Homo sapiens: one gene and its partner. The protein of the gene in region 2 purifies or fractionates together with the protein of the main gene of each other region. This does not show direct contact. Each region holds a gene or a part of one and is shown on either strand. Other genes may lie near its edges.

What was found.
Region 1: the proteins of MVK (region 2) and CCDC91 purify together in Homo sapiens (affinity purification with mass spectrometry; 3 studies listed by BioGRID and IntAct, with this or other methods). This does not show direct contact.

Annotation. Positions count from the first base shown.
Region 1 is NC_000012.12:28,451,649-28,459,806, reverse strand, and holds part of CCDC91 (coiled-coil domain-containing protein 91), read right to left. Parts: intron 7,330-8,158; coding exon 7,153-7,329; intron 1-7,152. UniProt on the Homo sapiens protein: Involved in the regulation of membrane traffic through the trans-Golgi network (TGN). Functions in close cooperation with the GGAs in the sorting of hydrolases to lysosomes.
Region 2 is NC_000012.12:109,582,636-109,590,793, reverse strand, and holds part of MVK (mevalonate kinase), read right to left. Parts: intron 4,773-8,158; coding exon 4,669-4,772; intron 4,041-4,668; coding exon 3,995-4,040; intron 3,704-3,994; coding exon of another isoform or gene 3,629-3,703; intron 24-3,628; coding exon 1-23. UniProt on the Homo sapiens protein: Catalyzes the phosphorylation of mevalonate to mevalonate 5-phosphate, a key step in isoprenoid and cholesterol biosynthesis.

The DNA of each region.
Region 1 (8,158 bases), about 81 Mb from region 2:
TGTAATGCTTCCGTTTGACCAGTGAGAGAGAGTGTACTACTTTACTATGACCTAAAAATTCTACTTGTATTCATGCAGCCATTCATCACTGTAGAGCAAATATATACTAGTCGTTCAAAGTAAACATTTTTCTGAAGCTGAAAGTAATTATCCTTGACCTCTCAGAGTATTTTCCAAGTTTTTCATTGAGTAACAATAATAAGAATCAGTTCAGTTTGGCATCCAACTGACAGTGTGATGAATACTTCTTTAAAAAGGGGATAATAACATCCGAAGCACTATTTTAAATAACTCTAATCTTGGTAAAATGTTCCAATTAAAAGCTACCAAAACTCTAAGAGCCAAATTGTGTTGTTGGAGACCCAGTTGATTTTTTAAAGATTAGTATGTCTCCTTAAAACAGTGCTGGTCCTATATATTATAATCTATTGCAGTTTGTTAATACTCAGCTCCTCCTTTCAAGGTGCTCATAATCTATTGGAGAAGACATAGAAACAGGTCTTTTTATAATAATATGGCTGAGCAGTGGTACAGTTATATACTGAATGCTCAAGAGGAGCACTTGATTTAATCTGCAGGGAGGAAATAAAAGTTTTATGGAGGGTAAAAATGAAGAATTATGAAATAAGAGTGGGTTTTGCCAGTCAGGAAGCAATGGGATTCTAGGCTGATGGTGCAGTATGAACCAAGGCCCAAGACCATAAAATAGCCCACTATGTGTACCAGCCACTTGGTTCTAAAAGCATGAAATGTGAAACAGAGCAGCAGCAGACGAGCTAGACAGGTAAAGACCAGGTCAATGAAAGATGTATATTTTATGCTAAGTAGTTTGAACTTTTATCTTATCTTTTATCTTATAGGCTACAGGGAGGCACTGGAAGAATTTAAAGTGGGAGAATGATATCCATTTTTCACTCCAAGTTGAAAAGGCACAAAACTGGAGGTAAAGAAGTCTACATAAGAGGTCAAGGTAAGCAATAAGAATATTGAGACAAAGATAACAGGTTTGAAGTAAGTGTATATGTTTAAGGATTATTTTTCAGGTAAAATGGAAAGGTTCTGATAATTAAAAAGATGTGAGGTGGGTGGATTACAAGGTCAGTAGTTTGAGACCAGTAATTTGAGTCTGGCCAATATGGTGAAACCCCATCTCTACTAAAAATACAAAAATTAGCCAGGTGTGGTGGTGTGCACCTGTAGTTGCAGCTATTCAGGAGGCTGAGGCAGAAGAATTGCTTGAAACCAGGAGGGGGAGGTTGCAGTGAGCTAAGATAGCACCCCTGCAATCCAGCCTGGGCGACAGAGTGAGACTCCATCTTAAAAAAAAAAAAAAAAAAAAAAAAAAAAAAAAGGTGTGCAAATGAGGACAAAAGGGAAAATCTAGGATGAATTCTCATTCTCTGGACTGAAAAACTTGGCAGATGTTGTATTACAGACATCTCACTGAATGACTATAACTGAAAAAAATATAATAGAAGGAAAAAAGGACTTAGATGAAAAGGTATAATTTCTCTATAGATATGATACATTTGATAATTTAAAATGTCATTATGATTTTATTATCATCTAGATTATTATCAAAGTATTGTAAATAAAAAATTTAAAATGAATGAATGAATCAAAACTAAAGAAGTCAGCACAGAAAAATTTCAGGGTTGTGAAAATAGCCTGCTAAGCTAAAATAGAAATGCTATTTCCTTTTTTAAAAGAAGGGTCAGGTGGCAGTACTAAATTTCTTAAGGAAAATTTAACCACTGATTGTAATGTCTGTGGCTTCTCGGGAAAACATAACCCCAAATTACAGTGGCTGTGGTTATAAACCATTATGAAGAGCTTCCAACGTCAGACATAGTTTGAGTGTCTGTGTGCACTGGAGTTCTTTTACAGGATTTTGCTAGAACAGCAAAATTAATGACTATCCTCTTTTTGCCTACTTTGGTGTCAATAACAAACGTCTTTTCCTTTACTTAACAAAGACTTTTAAGTGACCCAGAATTAATTTAATATGAAAATCAATAAGCCAGGGTCATAAATTTTCCTCTTATTATCTCAGAAAAAAAGTACAATTTACAATCAACACTAAGACTTAGTCTTAACTTACGATCAAGGCCAAAGGAAAACATCTCTCAAGTAAATTCTGAGAATTATCTACCACAATCCTTAGGTACTCGGTTTTCTGTCATAGTTTAACATTTATCTCCTCAGTAAATGCCAGTACTAGCAGAGAGGAAATCTGGAGGTAAATTCTAAAGCAGAAGCTGATTTTTCCCTTTTCATTTCTCAGGAATAATTGAAGTGGCTTAAGTTGCACAATGTTTTTGTGTTGCCATACTAGATCATTTCCTAATTTCTACTGTGACTTAGTAGACAAAGAAAGATATTAACTGCTATTAATTATGGTTGCTTTTTAGTTTTCTTTAAAAGAACATTTGAGTGCTGTGAAGTGACCTAAACCTTAGAATTCAAAAACGGCTTCCAAGCTTTTAAAAAGTCAGTCCCTTCAGTTAATACTCAAAACAGTTTGTAGGTCCCTGGAGAGAGGCTCTTCAGGTCTATGTATCCCAACTAGCTGCCAAACACCTAAAAGACAGAATGAGCACTGACTTCTGCATCTAGGCTGGGGCTCAGCAGAAAGTGGCAGAAGCTGTTGTTCGTAGTGGTGACCTGAGCTTCCTAGAAAGTCTGGATGAATGCCTGGCTACTCAATCATGGGTTACAGGGTGACACAGACAGCACCAATAACTTTAACACTTTCATTATTTCATCTGAAGTAAAACTGTTACGTGTGAAACTATTTACAGTTAATCTAAAGTGGCCATATTCTTTCTAGGTAGAAGATGGACACAATCCATAAAAGAATGTCATAGAACCCTATCTAGAAATTATTTCCTTTTTATTTATTTGGCTTTAAATAACAACTATATGCTTATTAATCCAAAATTTCTATCTCCAGGCCTGACAACTCCCCTGAATTCCATTTCTATATTTCTAACTGCCTACTCAACATTTCCTCTAGGCTCATGAATAAGCATCACACATTTAATACACACAAATTAGATTTTTTAACCCCATGAAACTTAACCTTTTCTCACCTCAGTAAATGAAATTACATCCAAAATCACCATCCATCCAGTCAGTTATTCTGATAGTCATTTGTTTTTTAAAAATCAGCTCTATTAAGGTATTACTTACATATAATTTTCACAAATATTAAGTGTGTAATTTGATATGTTTTGTCAAATATAAGCGCTATCACAATCAAGACATAAAACATTATCATCGCCCTCAAAAAATTCCCCTGCCCTCAGTTATTGTAACTACTGATGTGTCTTCTCTCATATCACTTTTGTCTTCCCTAGAATTTCATATAAATTGACTTATATGAAATGAAAATTTACTGAGTTTGGCTTCTTTCCTAACTATATTGTCTAAAGAAATCCCCTACAACCATTATCAGCTAAATATATAACCCCAAACTTTTTCTTCCTAGCCCACAGCACCACACGGCATGATTTGCTTATCATAGCTCTTTTCCAACTTGAATGTAAGCTCTGTGAAAGCACAGGGGCCTTGACTATCTTGCTTAATGTTGTGTGTCAGAAACGTGTAACAGTGCCAAAACATGGCAGAGGCGCCATAAATGTTACAGAATGGACAATACATAAAAATAACACCTTCTTAAAGTTTTGCCTATAGAACTTATCTATCAGTTTCCTAGGATCATTTCAAACACTAAATGATAAATGACATAAATCTGTACTTTATACTAAGATGAGAACACAGGGAGATGGAATAGAGTAGTGGCAAAATACAAGGCCTCAGGAGTTAAACTGCCTGAATTTGAATACTGACTGTTGACTCCTCTAAAAAGTCACATGGCCTAAAACAAGTTACATAATCTCTGTAAGCTTTAGTCTCCCCATCTGTAACAATGGGGATAATAATAGTACCTACTTCATAAGGTCATTGTGAGGAATTGACATAAAACATCTAAAAAAATTAGAAAAGTGCTCAGCACTTAGAATTAATGATAGTCAATGTTGTTAATTATTGCCATCTCCACCACCACCAGTTCTGCTATTATCTTACTGCTATTATTTTCTGCAGGCAAAGCTACAAAGAAAAAAAAAAACATAAAAATACCTTTTTAGCTAAACTAACTTAATATATTTGCTTAGAATAAAGGCAACTTAATGAAACTTGAACATGGGGAACTATTATTGTTTCCCTTATTGTTATCAGATAATGATCTGTCAGCTTTTGTAATGCCCTTTATTTGAGGGATTTTCCCTAAAAGAAGTAACAAGGACATTAATTATAAATGTGAAACTCAGTTAAAATCCTCCAGGGTATGTACAGAATGAAGAGGCAGTATTTCAGATTCCTATCACTAGTAGCCCAGGGGTAAAGTCTATTTATAAATTATACTTCTAGTCTTGCAACGAAACTAATTTAGGGTAATTAATTAAGCTCATGGGACTTTATACAAACCAATCTGTAGTAATATATTAGTTTTTCCAATTGGCTTTTCCTAGGAAACTAATATGATTAATTAATAAATGATATCTATAAACTTATTTGAAAATTTTGGACAACAAATACAATTAAGTCCTAAAAAGCATCTTCTGGGAAGTATACTCTTCAGGATATTTACTGCATGTTTTCTACATGCCTATTTTTCTTGTAGCTGGTATTTTACAACTAGCATAATTTTCATTTTTTTGAATGATTATAATCAGATACATTATTCATTTACTTTTTCCTTTACCTTGGGAATTTAGAAAAATATTAAAATACCAGATGATGTCAACAAGAGGTGAAACAGGAAAACCCTGGATCCTCTGTCCTTCCATGGAAACACTCAATTTACAACGACGCATGCACAAATACCCTTTGTGGGAAATCCAGAGACAAACTGAAAGGGTCCTTCACCCTGGGCAAGCATGAAACCGGCTATACTGAAACTGGTAGGAAAACTCAAGACCTAACTCTCACCACAATCCCTATCCCCAGTACAGTGCCATATGATCAAAGGAAACCCACAGCTCTCAACTTCTCTGGTGGGAAGAAAGTTGGATTACATGTCCAACCAACCTTTCTAGAAACTGCCCAGGTTACTCGCTTCTGTCTTACCTATCTCAGAGCCGTAACAGGACCTGGCATACTACTGATGCCTGGGGGCCTGTGAGAATAAAGATAGCGGCTTAAATTAACAAGCAAACAGTTGTTATAGCCTACTCTCCTGCCCAGTCCAAGAAAGATGGCAAAAAACCTCAGACTGCAGCCTCTCCCTAGGGAGGGAAAGAGCTGGACTACGTGTCCAAAGTTCGAATTTTTCCAGGGGCTCCTGGGAGACTGGCTTCTGTCTCACCTATCTGCAAGCATTGGAACACCATGTACTATAGACAGCTATGCGGTGCCAACAACAAACACAGCAGTTTGGATTAGCATAAAGGTTTGAGAGGCCCACAAAATCTCTGATTAGGTTGATTGGTGTGGGTCTTCACCAGTACAAGGCCAGTCAGTGAAGACTGTGAGAGGTAGCTGTTATTTCTAATGCATAGAAACCAACATATAGAGTCAAGAAAAATAAATAAGGAATAATGTTCCAAACAAAGAAATAAATGTCCTGAAATCCACCCAAATGATACAGAGATATATAATTTAACTTGGCAGAGACTTTCTAGCAAAACGTGCAAACATTTGTAAGGAAATTAATATAATTTATTCAAGACATGTTTAGATTGTCTTCACCATATTCTGAACCTATAGAAGACAAATTTCAAAGTAGTGTATCATATACTGCATGTTTCTTGTAGACTCTTGACAAATCAGCAGAGAAGTGTGCTCTTTAAAATATATATTTTTCCATTAGGATGACGAATATGTGCTGATTTTTTTCATGCCTTCTTACCCAATTCAAGTGATGAATGGCCCACATCTATGTGAGGTTACAGGAATGTTCGGGGTCATAAAACAAATTTAAATAAACTCTCCCGAATAAGAACTTAGCCAGTGAACTTGACCTTACTGGCATGAAATTCCAACCAACTGAAGTGACAAACATTTTATATGCAATAGGTACTCAATATATATTTATTGATAGGTTACGGTAAGAATTAGAAGGTAATATTGCTTTAGTGAAAAAACGCAAGAAAAAAAAAGATCTGCTACTGTACTACTGTTATTTTAACATAGATGGTACCTACAGATCTGTTTAATTTTTGTAATAAATGGGTAACTGTGTGTTCCTGAGAATAAACAAGTGACATCTTTTAAAAATATAACTTTTATCTTGGATATTAAAAACTTTGAGCTTTTTACGGCTTCATTAAGATTAATGAGTCATAAAAAAAATCTGGGTTGATCTGAAAGGTTAGTCATTTTAGCTGCATTTATAATGTGAATGAACAATTGTAGTATATTTAACAGTTTGAACATGTTAGACTTCTATGAATGTTATTCTTTTGCTTTTGATACTTAAGGGAAGATTTATTTAAGTACTTCTGCCTATATATATATAAAAAGACTAATTCAAGTAAAATAGAACTGTGCAAATTCAATTACAGAAAAACAAACTAAGGTAGTGTTTTTAATTGTCAGATAAACAATCAAAAGTTATTCTGCATGTAGGTCATGCCTGTTGATCATTATGTATCTTTATGAGACTATAGGGAATATTTGTGAGGTTTTATTAATTATTGTTACCAACTATAGGTATAGAGATTTACAAATTAGAATTATAAATTAATTGAATCAAATTGTTTTCTACACAAATATATTATTTTGTATTGATTGAGTCTGTGTGCATGTGTGCGTATGTGTCTCTATGTATGAGAAAAGGAAAAACAACACAGAAAGGTTAATATATTTGCAATGACTAAACATAAATTTTGTTTTGACCTTTTAGAAAATAAAGTAAAAGGGTAAAATGGTCAGTTACTAAGTTTTCAATATCAGAAAGATGAAAGCACATTAAAATATTAAAAATGATTAATTCAAAATATAAACATCAAAATGAAAATTAAAAATTAAAAAGTCATAAATATCTACTAAGGTTGTTTTAAGTAAGATAAAAGATAGAGTAAGGGTACTTCATTTTGAGAAAAATGAGAAAAAAGTAAATATTTACTAACAGTTAATATTACTAACCTGACTTATTTTTCTTTGTTCTTGTATAGCTTTTTGAATTTCCTGAGATACTTTTTCTTGATCTTTTGCATGTTCTGTCTTCCATAATTCCCTTTCTTCAGCATGCGCTTTTTCTAAATTTTTTCTTTCTTCTTCTACGACTTTTAAAACTGCATCCTTCACTGCTTCTTTTTCAAGCTTCAAAATAAATAAAGACCAGAACAAATTTGAAAGACTGCATAATAATTTCTTGAGTAACAGACTTGGTTAACCTAAAAGATAAAAAACTTTGATCCTATAGTGTTTAGTTCTAACATTGCTGTTTTTATGCATAGTAAATAACTGCTACAAAATAAAATCTATTATTCTTTTTTATACAAATATTCCTACTTAATTTCCATGGCATTTCTAATCTTCAAAGAAATCAGGCCTTAGGGTGGAGTAGCAGATTTCAAACTATATGGTCTAAAGATCCCTTTACAATCTTAAAATTATTGAGGATATCAAAGAGATTTTGTTTATGTTGATCATATGTATTAATACATATTAGAAATTCAAGAAAAAATAAAATTATTAATTCATTTAAAATTAATATAATTGCATGATATTAACAAATAATATATTTTATGAAAAACTACTTTCTAAAATTAAAAAAGGAAAATGCTACTGTATGTGTCTGTAAATCTCTTTAATATCTGACTTAACAGAAGACAGCTAAATTAATTCTTATTTCTTCCTTCTGTGTTAAATCTGTAATGATGTTTTTTAGTTGAAGTATATAAAGAAAACCCAGTCTCACACAGATAGGTTGTAGGAAAAACTGAGTATTTAGTAGCCAGTTTAAATAATTGTGGATATTCTTGATGATTTCACATCAGAACTTGACAAGGACTAGTTCTTAAAGGTTAGGTGTCATAATGAAAATAAAATTATGTCAAATGAAATTTTCATGCTATTATATTACAGTCCTTTCTTGCAATCTGAATGAATCATTTATCGATGCATAATTTTTAACATTTTTATGTGA
Region 2 (8,158 bases):
GCAGGATCTGGAGAGCTGGCGACCTGCAGGGTGAAGAGGAGGCAGGTCCACACTGAACTCAAGATGGAGGAGCTGGGACAGGACTGGGAGCAGTCCGGGAAGCCGCCCACCCTGATACGGAGGAAGAAGGGAGGCACAAGAGGTGACACTGGATTGGGGGAGCATGGGGCTTCTGCTGCTGGCCACAGCTGCGCCTCCATCCCAGGCACTGGTTGGGTGGCCATTCTCCCTTGGCTTTTCACTCATTTATTCATTCAACTTCAACTGGGACCTACAACATGCTAGGCACAGCGTGGCCTTGGGGCCGGGGCCAGAGAGGGGATAGGGGAGAAGGGCCGAGAAGGTTTTTCTGGCATGACGTGGACACTGAGAACTGAGGAAGGGTAAGAAGCCACCAAGCAAAGCTAGAAGGGTGAGGATTTCTGGCAGTTGGAGCAGCCTGTGTGAGCCTGGAGGTGGCGGAACCCGGCACAGTCATCCAGTGAGAAATTCAAAGTGGCTATAGCAGAGTACAAGGAGGGGGCGAAGGTTCACTTGTGTGGGTCACCCCCACGAAGCTGGAGTTTTAGAAAGACCAAGCAACAGGCCCTGAAATGGATCACACAGAGGGAAGATGCCCAGGCTAGCTGGTGCGGGCAGTGCCACGCACGGGCTCGTAAATGCAGGGAGGGCAGGGTTGCAGAGGAGGATGGTCCCCAGCACGCTGAGCCCATTCTTGCCCTACCTCAATGGTGCCCGGACGAGCAGCCCTGGTCTAAAACCAGATGTAGAGTCAGTCATCCCCTTGGCTGCCCTCTGGCACATAGACGTGTCCCAGGCAGCCACGTTGAGCTGACTCTCTAGCATGACCCCGTGGTCCTCACCTGCCCCAGAGGAGCTGCATAAATCCCTCCTAAAGCCACAATCCCAACTGTCCTTGTAGTGAGCCGTCTTCGAGGGCTCAAGCTGACATTTCTTGCCATCCAACCTGCCTTTCAGAGGGCTGCAGGCTGGGATGGAAGGTGGGGGATTTGGATGAGCTCTGGCCCGAGACAGCTGGAGACGGGCAGAGCCCTTGATACCTTTATTCGCTGTCTTCACAGTTCAAGATTGTAAAATCCAATAGGGCTGGAAAGGGCTGCCAGAAACCTGCTTTATCTCACTGCCCATAAGCCCATGAAATTAATATCGATTCTCAGCCTTGGAGGCTGGCTTTTTTTTTTTTTTAACTTTACAAAAGATGAACATTCTATTTGGCTTTTCTCTTCCCTTCTAAGACAAGCCATTCCTCAAAAGGGCAGCGTTCTGGGAGGCCGCATCTTGATCCACTTCACAAACAATGCATTTTTTCTTTACAGAGAGGCACCACGCATGGTTGGTGGGGGGAAGCTCCTTAAGCCATCCATGGGATTAACGTGGAGTCTGGCCCCCAGCTTCTCTGTGAAGCCGCCATCTGCTCCCGTGGCACCCCACAGCAGGCAGCAAAGGTTGGTTTGCTCCATGCTCCCATCTAGCCAGGCGGGAGGAGTTTGGGTGTTGCATCTTCATCTTTCTTAGACAAGTCCTCTGCAGACAGGCCTGTCACCAGCCCCACCAGATCCAGGGCTCATACCCATCCAGCGGCCACCACGCAGGGGGTAAGCCTGGTAAGCGCTCCTGTGATCCGGGCTTGGCCACTGCCCCAGCCTCTTCTTCTCTCCTCGCTCCCCAGGCTGCTCACTCCACTCAGCCACTCTGACCTCCCAGCTACTGTGTCACACGGCAGGCAGCGTGCTCGTCTCAGGACCTTTGCACCGCGCTTCCTCTGCCAGGGACCAGCCCCGCCCCATAGCGGCGTGACTTATTCAGGTTTCTGCTCAATGTTCCTTCACCAGCAGCCCCCGAACCCCCATCCAATCGGACCCCTCCTTCTCTTTGTAGCCTCTGACCCTGCCTTGTTTCCTAAAGGTGCTTAAGACTGCCTGATATGCTCTCACAGACAACTGATTTTTTCTCCTCTCCCAACAAAGTATGAGTTCCACGGAGGCGGGGCTTTGTTTTGTTCCCTGCGGAGGCCCCAGTACTCAGCACGCAGTAGGTGCTTAATGATACTTGTGGAAAGGATGAATGAACTCGGCCAGCAAACAGGTAAGCACTTCAGAGCCACCGCTTCTGATTGTATGTTCAAGATCCCCCTAAGTAAACAAGGAGCTGGAGGTCTGGGAGAAGTGACTCACCTGAGGGCACCAGCTGGCAAGTGGGAGAGCTGGACTCAAACCTAGGCCTGTGGACCCAGCGCCTCCGCCCAGCACACCAGCAACGCCTGGCCATTCCCCTGGCCGTTCCCCTGCCCGCCCCCCTTGGAAACCTCCTCATTCATCTCCTGATGCCCCCAGTAGACCGTACACTCGGTGCCCAGCCCACGTCTTCATCAGTTTTCTAGCTCCAGGGCCTAGTCCAGTGCTTAGGCCACAAGTGGCTCTCAGGAGACACTGAAGGAATGAAATGCCACCACTTCCATGAATGATTCCCCAGGCTCGCAGCCAGATCTAAGACGCCTGTCACTGTCACCCACAGCAGCTTCACAACCCTTCAGGTGTCTTCTCTCTGACGATTCCAGTGACCGCCTTCCCCATCAGACCGTGGGCTCCTGAAGACAGGCCGGGGCCCGGGCATTTGAGACTCCCCCACATGATCCAGCTCTGGTTCCACATGGATCCGGGGCGGTGGCAGACCAGCTTCACCTCGGCACCCGAGGCTCTCCTGACGACTGCTGGAGCAACCCGAGGAAGCTGTTCCACGCTCCTACTGGCTTCTGCGGAGTGCAAAGGTCGGCGGCAAGGGTGATTCTGCCTCCCAAGGGACACTAAGCAATGTCTGGAGATGTTTTTGATTGCCACGCTGAGGGTGCTACTGGCATCTAGTGGGTAGGGGCTGGGGATGGCTACAATGCACAGGGCAGCCCCACCACAAAGAATAACCCAGCCCCAAATCTCAATAGTGCCAATGCTGACAACTCTGACGTACAGCCTTGGAAAGGGAGGCATGACTGAGCTGGGACAGAAAGATCCCAGAGAACTAGCCGGGGGCCCAGGTGTGGCGCTGTGGCAGGCCAGGTTACTGAGCCACTAATGGAGTGGCCCAGCTGGTGGGGGCTGCAGGCCAGGACCTGCCACTCATCCATGAAGACCGCCCTGAGTAAAGAGGAGAGAGCCCCAGGACCCTTACTGATGCGAAAAGGCCCATGGAGGTGGCAAAGTGCCCTGGGACAAACACCACCCCACAACTTGATCAAGGGCTTAGGGAACAGTCAAAAAGGCACCTGGCTCCCCTCTGCCATGCGTTTCATTCCAGGCACCCAACAATTCTGCCGTGGGTGCAAACAGAACAGAGGATGCTGAAATCGCAAACAGAACAGAGAATGCTGAAATCGCACATGCACGTTTGTGATTCCAATGATTCCAGCGGGAGGGACACAGAAACATAAAACAGGCTGAGAGTCTCCAAATGTCACTTCTGCTCCAAGCCCCTCCCAAGCCTCCCTCCCGCTTCCATCCTGCCTCTGCCCTGTGTGCCTCCATCATGGTGACTCTCACATTGTCCTGTGGCGGCTTTTGTGTGTGTCTGGCCCCACCCCCACAAGCAGACTGAGAGTCCTTGGAAACTGTACCCAAGCTTCATCTCTCCATTCCTACGCCCCAGTGCAGCATCATCGGGAACACAGGAAGTAATGGATTCTTGTTTACTAAGCAAATACAGGAATGAATGAATGAGCAGCTGAGAGTCTACGGGCACAGCCATGCATGACTTTCCCTTTCTGATATCTCTGCAATTTAAGAGCTGAAGGGGAGAAGGAGAGAGCAGGTCTTCCCCACCACCCCTGCTTCCTTGCAGCTAGTGCACTGTGAGGGCCACATTGGGGGATGAAGAGCCAGGGACACCTGCCTCCTATGGTACTTCCCAAAGGTGCAGAGCTCTGCCCCCTGCACACATCAATGCAGCCATGGCTGAATGTGCTGCTCCACCCCCAGGTTACCTCTTTAAGGATGAAATCTTCCCTTGATGGTATCGGAGGGCTCCTCCTAAAGAGAAAAACCAGTGGGTCAGAGCTGTGGGAAAAGCTAACATATCTGTGCTACTTGGGAGAGAGGTTGAACTTTGGGTTGGGTTCATTTTGCCCCATTCAGGAAAGAGGCTAAGTAATGAGTCAGCCCAGCTTCAGTTACAAAAGGTGCAGGAGGGCAAAAGGTCCCCGAAGCCCCACCAGGAAGCTCTTGCCAGGCCTTGGATTCCTGGGTCCCCCTCCCTCCAGACTGTCCAGCTTCCCCCGACAAGCCACATGGTGAAGGTGGGGCCCAGGACACAGCATCTGGGCCCTGTAAGCAAGAGTTCTTGCCAGAGGGGAGGCCACCTGGATGGTGTGCAAACTCCACGGCAACGGCTCTGCATCCTGAACCTACAACTCTCTTGGGGAGCTCGTGGAAGCTGCAGCTTCCCAGGCCCCAGTTCCACCCCCGGAGATTCTGATTCAGGGGGTGTGAGACAGGGCCCCAAGATTTCTCCCCATTCCCCCCAAAATAGGAAAATGCTATTTTTTCCAGAATCCATTGATTCGATTCCTCCCAAACCAGCACAGACTCTTGGGCACCTACCATTGTAATAAGAATTTTTAAAATAACAACAATAAAATAAACCTGAGGCCACACCTACCCCAGGTGCTGACAGCATTGTCCACTCCGGAGGGGTTCCCGTGAATCATTCTCTCCCCTTGGAAGGCCCACTTGTTAATTAGCTCCAAATCCTCCTTGGTCCACCTGAAGACACAGATGTTCATCTTTACTGTGGCAGTGAGGAGTGGGGCTGGGGAGGGGTCACCTGGGGCTGTGCTGGGCAGGCCAAGGGGCATAGGAGCTTGGGCCCTTGAGCTCAGAAAGAACAAGTCCACTCTGAACCTCTCCAGCTACGGAGCGTGCCAAGTGTGCGCCCTTCCCTCTGAAGCCCACCTGGCGCAGTCAAAACAGCCTGGGCTTTGGACTCCCGTGGTCCTACTTTGCCTCTTTTTTTTTCTTTTTTTTTGAGACGGAGTCTCACTCTGTCACCCAGGCTGGAGTGCAGTGGTGCAATCTCAGCTCACTTTCTCCCGGGTTCAAGCAATTCTCCTGCCTCAGCCTCCCGAGCAGCTGGGACAACAGGTGCACACCAGCACGCCCAGCTAATTTTTGTATTTTTTAGTAGAGACGGGGTTTCACCATATTGGACAGGCTGGTCTCGAACGCCCGCTTTGGCCTCCCAAAGTGCTGGGATTACAGGCATGAGCCACCGCACCTGGCCCCTGCATTGCCTCTTACTAGCTGAGTGACTCTGGGCCTGTTATCTAACCTCTCTGAGCCTCATTATCCTTCCCTGGAGAATTGGAACCCCCACCCTCCTCAGAGGCTAGCTGCATGTGTGTCTAATGATGGCAAGGTGTCCACAAGCAGCAGGTGGCAACTGCCACTATAACAGACCTCTGCATAAGCGTCCACACCTGAACCAAGCCTGCCTTTAAGAAGAACGGGCAGAGGTGTGACTCTTTCCCAGGGCCCTGCAAGTAGATCCAAAGCACGATCATTATGAATTCAAATCCCAGGAGCCCCAGAGACCCCTGGAGGGGCCAGGCTCGTCCCAACCATGTCTGGATCTCTCCCAAGCACGTGGCCTCACTGCCTTCCATGGACCAGGTGTGGGCTCACAAACAGTTTAAATGAACAGACCCAAAACACATGAGTATGGAACAAGACAAAATGATCAACCCCACTTCCCCACTCTTTTCTCTCAGCTTTTGTTTCCTTTCTGCAGATTCCCTTCCTCATGAAACAGCAGAAGCTAAAGGTGGTTTTCTGACCTCTGAGAATGATGTGGCTCAGTGGCAGAGTTATGGAGTAAGCAGTCAGCCTAGTTTTGTTTTTTTGAGATGGAGTTTCGCTCTTGTCCCCCAGGCTGGAGTGCTGTGGCACGATCTCAGCTCACTGCAACCTCTGCCTCCTGGGTTCAAGCGATTCTCCTACCTCAGCCTCCCGAGTAGCTGGGATTACAGGCGCCTGCCACCACGCCTGGCTAATGTTTGTATTTTTAGTAGAGATGGGTTTTTGCTGTGTTGGCCAGGCTGATCTCGAACTCCTGACCTGAAGCGATCTGCCTACCTCAGCCTCCCAAAGTGCTGGGATTACAGGCGTGAGCCACCGTGCCCAGCCAGTGAGCCCTTTTTGGAGCCCATCCTATCACTGACTCACTGGGCATCTGTGAGCAACTGCTTCACCTTAAACCCTGTTTTCTCATCCATAAAACAGGGATAATAGTGTCTATCTCACTGAGGATATTGAGATGGAAAAAATACACAAGTGCTTTGTGTAATGCCCAGGAGATAGGATGTGCTCCCCTCAAAATAGGCCGTCTGGGGTCACAGCGCCTGGGGGCCTGGTTCAATCACTTACTTGCTGTGAGCCCTGAGCAAGTCAATTACCTGCTCTGAGTCTCTTTCTTCATCTGCCAAATAAGGATTTTTACGGACTTGGCAACTCACATGGTAGCTGTGAGACTATGATTAATAATGAGTTAACATCAGTTAACATACTATTGATTAGCATGTGCCAAACATTGTGCTAAATGCTTTCTCAAATGGACCATTGAGAAATGGTTCATAATCCTCCCAATTGTGCCCTACAGGGAAGGTATAATAATTATCCTGTTTCTTACAGAAACGGAAACTGAGGCTTGGATGGGTCAAACAGCATCCTGGAGATCACAGTGCTACTCACTGCTGGGTCAGGACCACATCTGCTGACTTGGAGCCCAAGCTCTTAGCTACTAACTTAATGGTGCCAACAAGATACACTCACTTATTCATTCAGCATTTATTGAGCAACTGCTATGTGCCTGTGACTAAGCTCCTAGTAGGGAGCAAAACAGACAAGGTCCCTGACTTCTTGGAGCTTAGAGTCTAATGGAGAAAGTGAAGGTCAGAAAGCGATCAGTATTCAAATACAAACAAATCCATGACACTGCAATATGTGACTTCAAAGCAGGTGTTTCTCAACAGGTGCTGGAGAGGATGTGGAGAAATAGGAACACTTTTACACTGTTGGTGGGACTGTAAACTAGTTCAACCATTGTGGAAGTCAGTGTGGCGATTCCTCAGGGATGTAGAACTAGAAATACCATTTGACCCAGCCATCCCATTACTGGGTATATACCCAAAGGACTATAAATCATGCTGCTATAAAGACACATGCACACGTGTGTTTATTGCAGCACTATTCACAATAGCAAAGACTTGGAACCCACCCAAATGTCCAACAATGATAGACTGGATTAAGAAAATGTGGCACATATACACCATGGAACACTATGCAGCCATAAAAAATGATGAGTTCATGTCCTTTGTAGGGACATGGATGAAATTGGAAATCATCATTCTCAGTAAACTATCGCAAGAACAAAAAACCAAACACCGCATATTCTCACTCATAGGTGGGAATTGAACAATGAGAACACATGGACACAGGAAGGGGAACATCACACTCTGGGGACTGTGGTGGGATGGGGGGAGAGGGGAGGGATAGCATTAGGAGATATACCTAATGCTAAATGATGAGCTAATGGGTGCAGCACACCAGCATGGCACATGTATACATATGTAACTAACCTGCACATTGTGCACATGTACCCTAAAACTTAAAGTATAATAATAATAAAAGAAAAAAAAAACAGACCAAGGATCCAGAGCTACCTAATTACATTTAATAAATGATAATATAGTTAAAAAAACAAAAACAAAAACAAACCAGGTGTTTCTGTAAGAGTACGATGGGCTGAATTGCTGGGGGCTGGGGCGGGGTGGTGGTGCCTGAAGGACAAGGGGAGCCAGCTGGGCAAGGTGTGTGTGTGGGGTGCATTCCAGACACACCACTTGTGCAGCACTGGAACCACACCAGAGCTGGCTGGCCCTTCCCAGGGACCAACAGGTGGCAGCGTGCCTGGGATGAAGTGAGTGATGGAGGCGGGGGAAGGTAACTCAGGCAGCTGACCTAGCCCAGGGCCTGGCCCTCTCAACAAATGTGAGTCTTCCTCCTGCTCTACACAGTTTGTTTTTTAGGGGGCTCAGATTTGAGTCTTCAAAGGAGACTGGGCTCCAGTCCTTTCCGACTCAGAAACACATGAT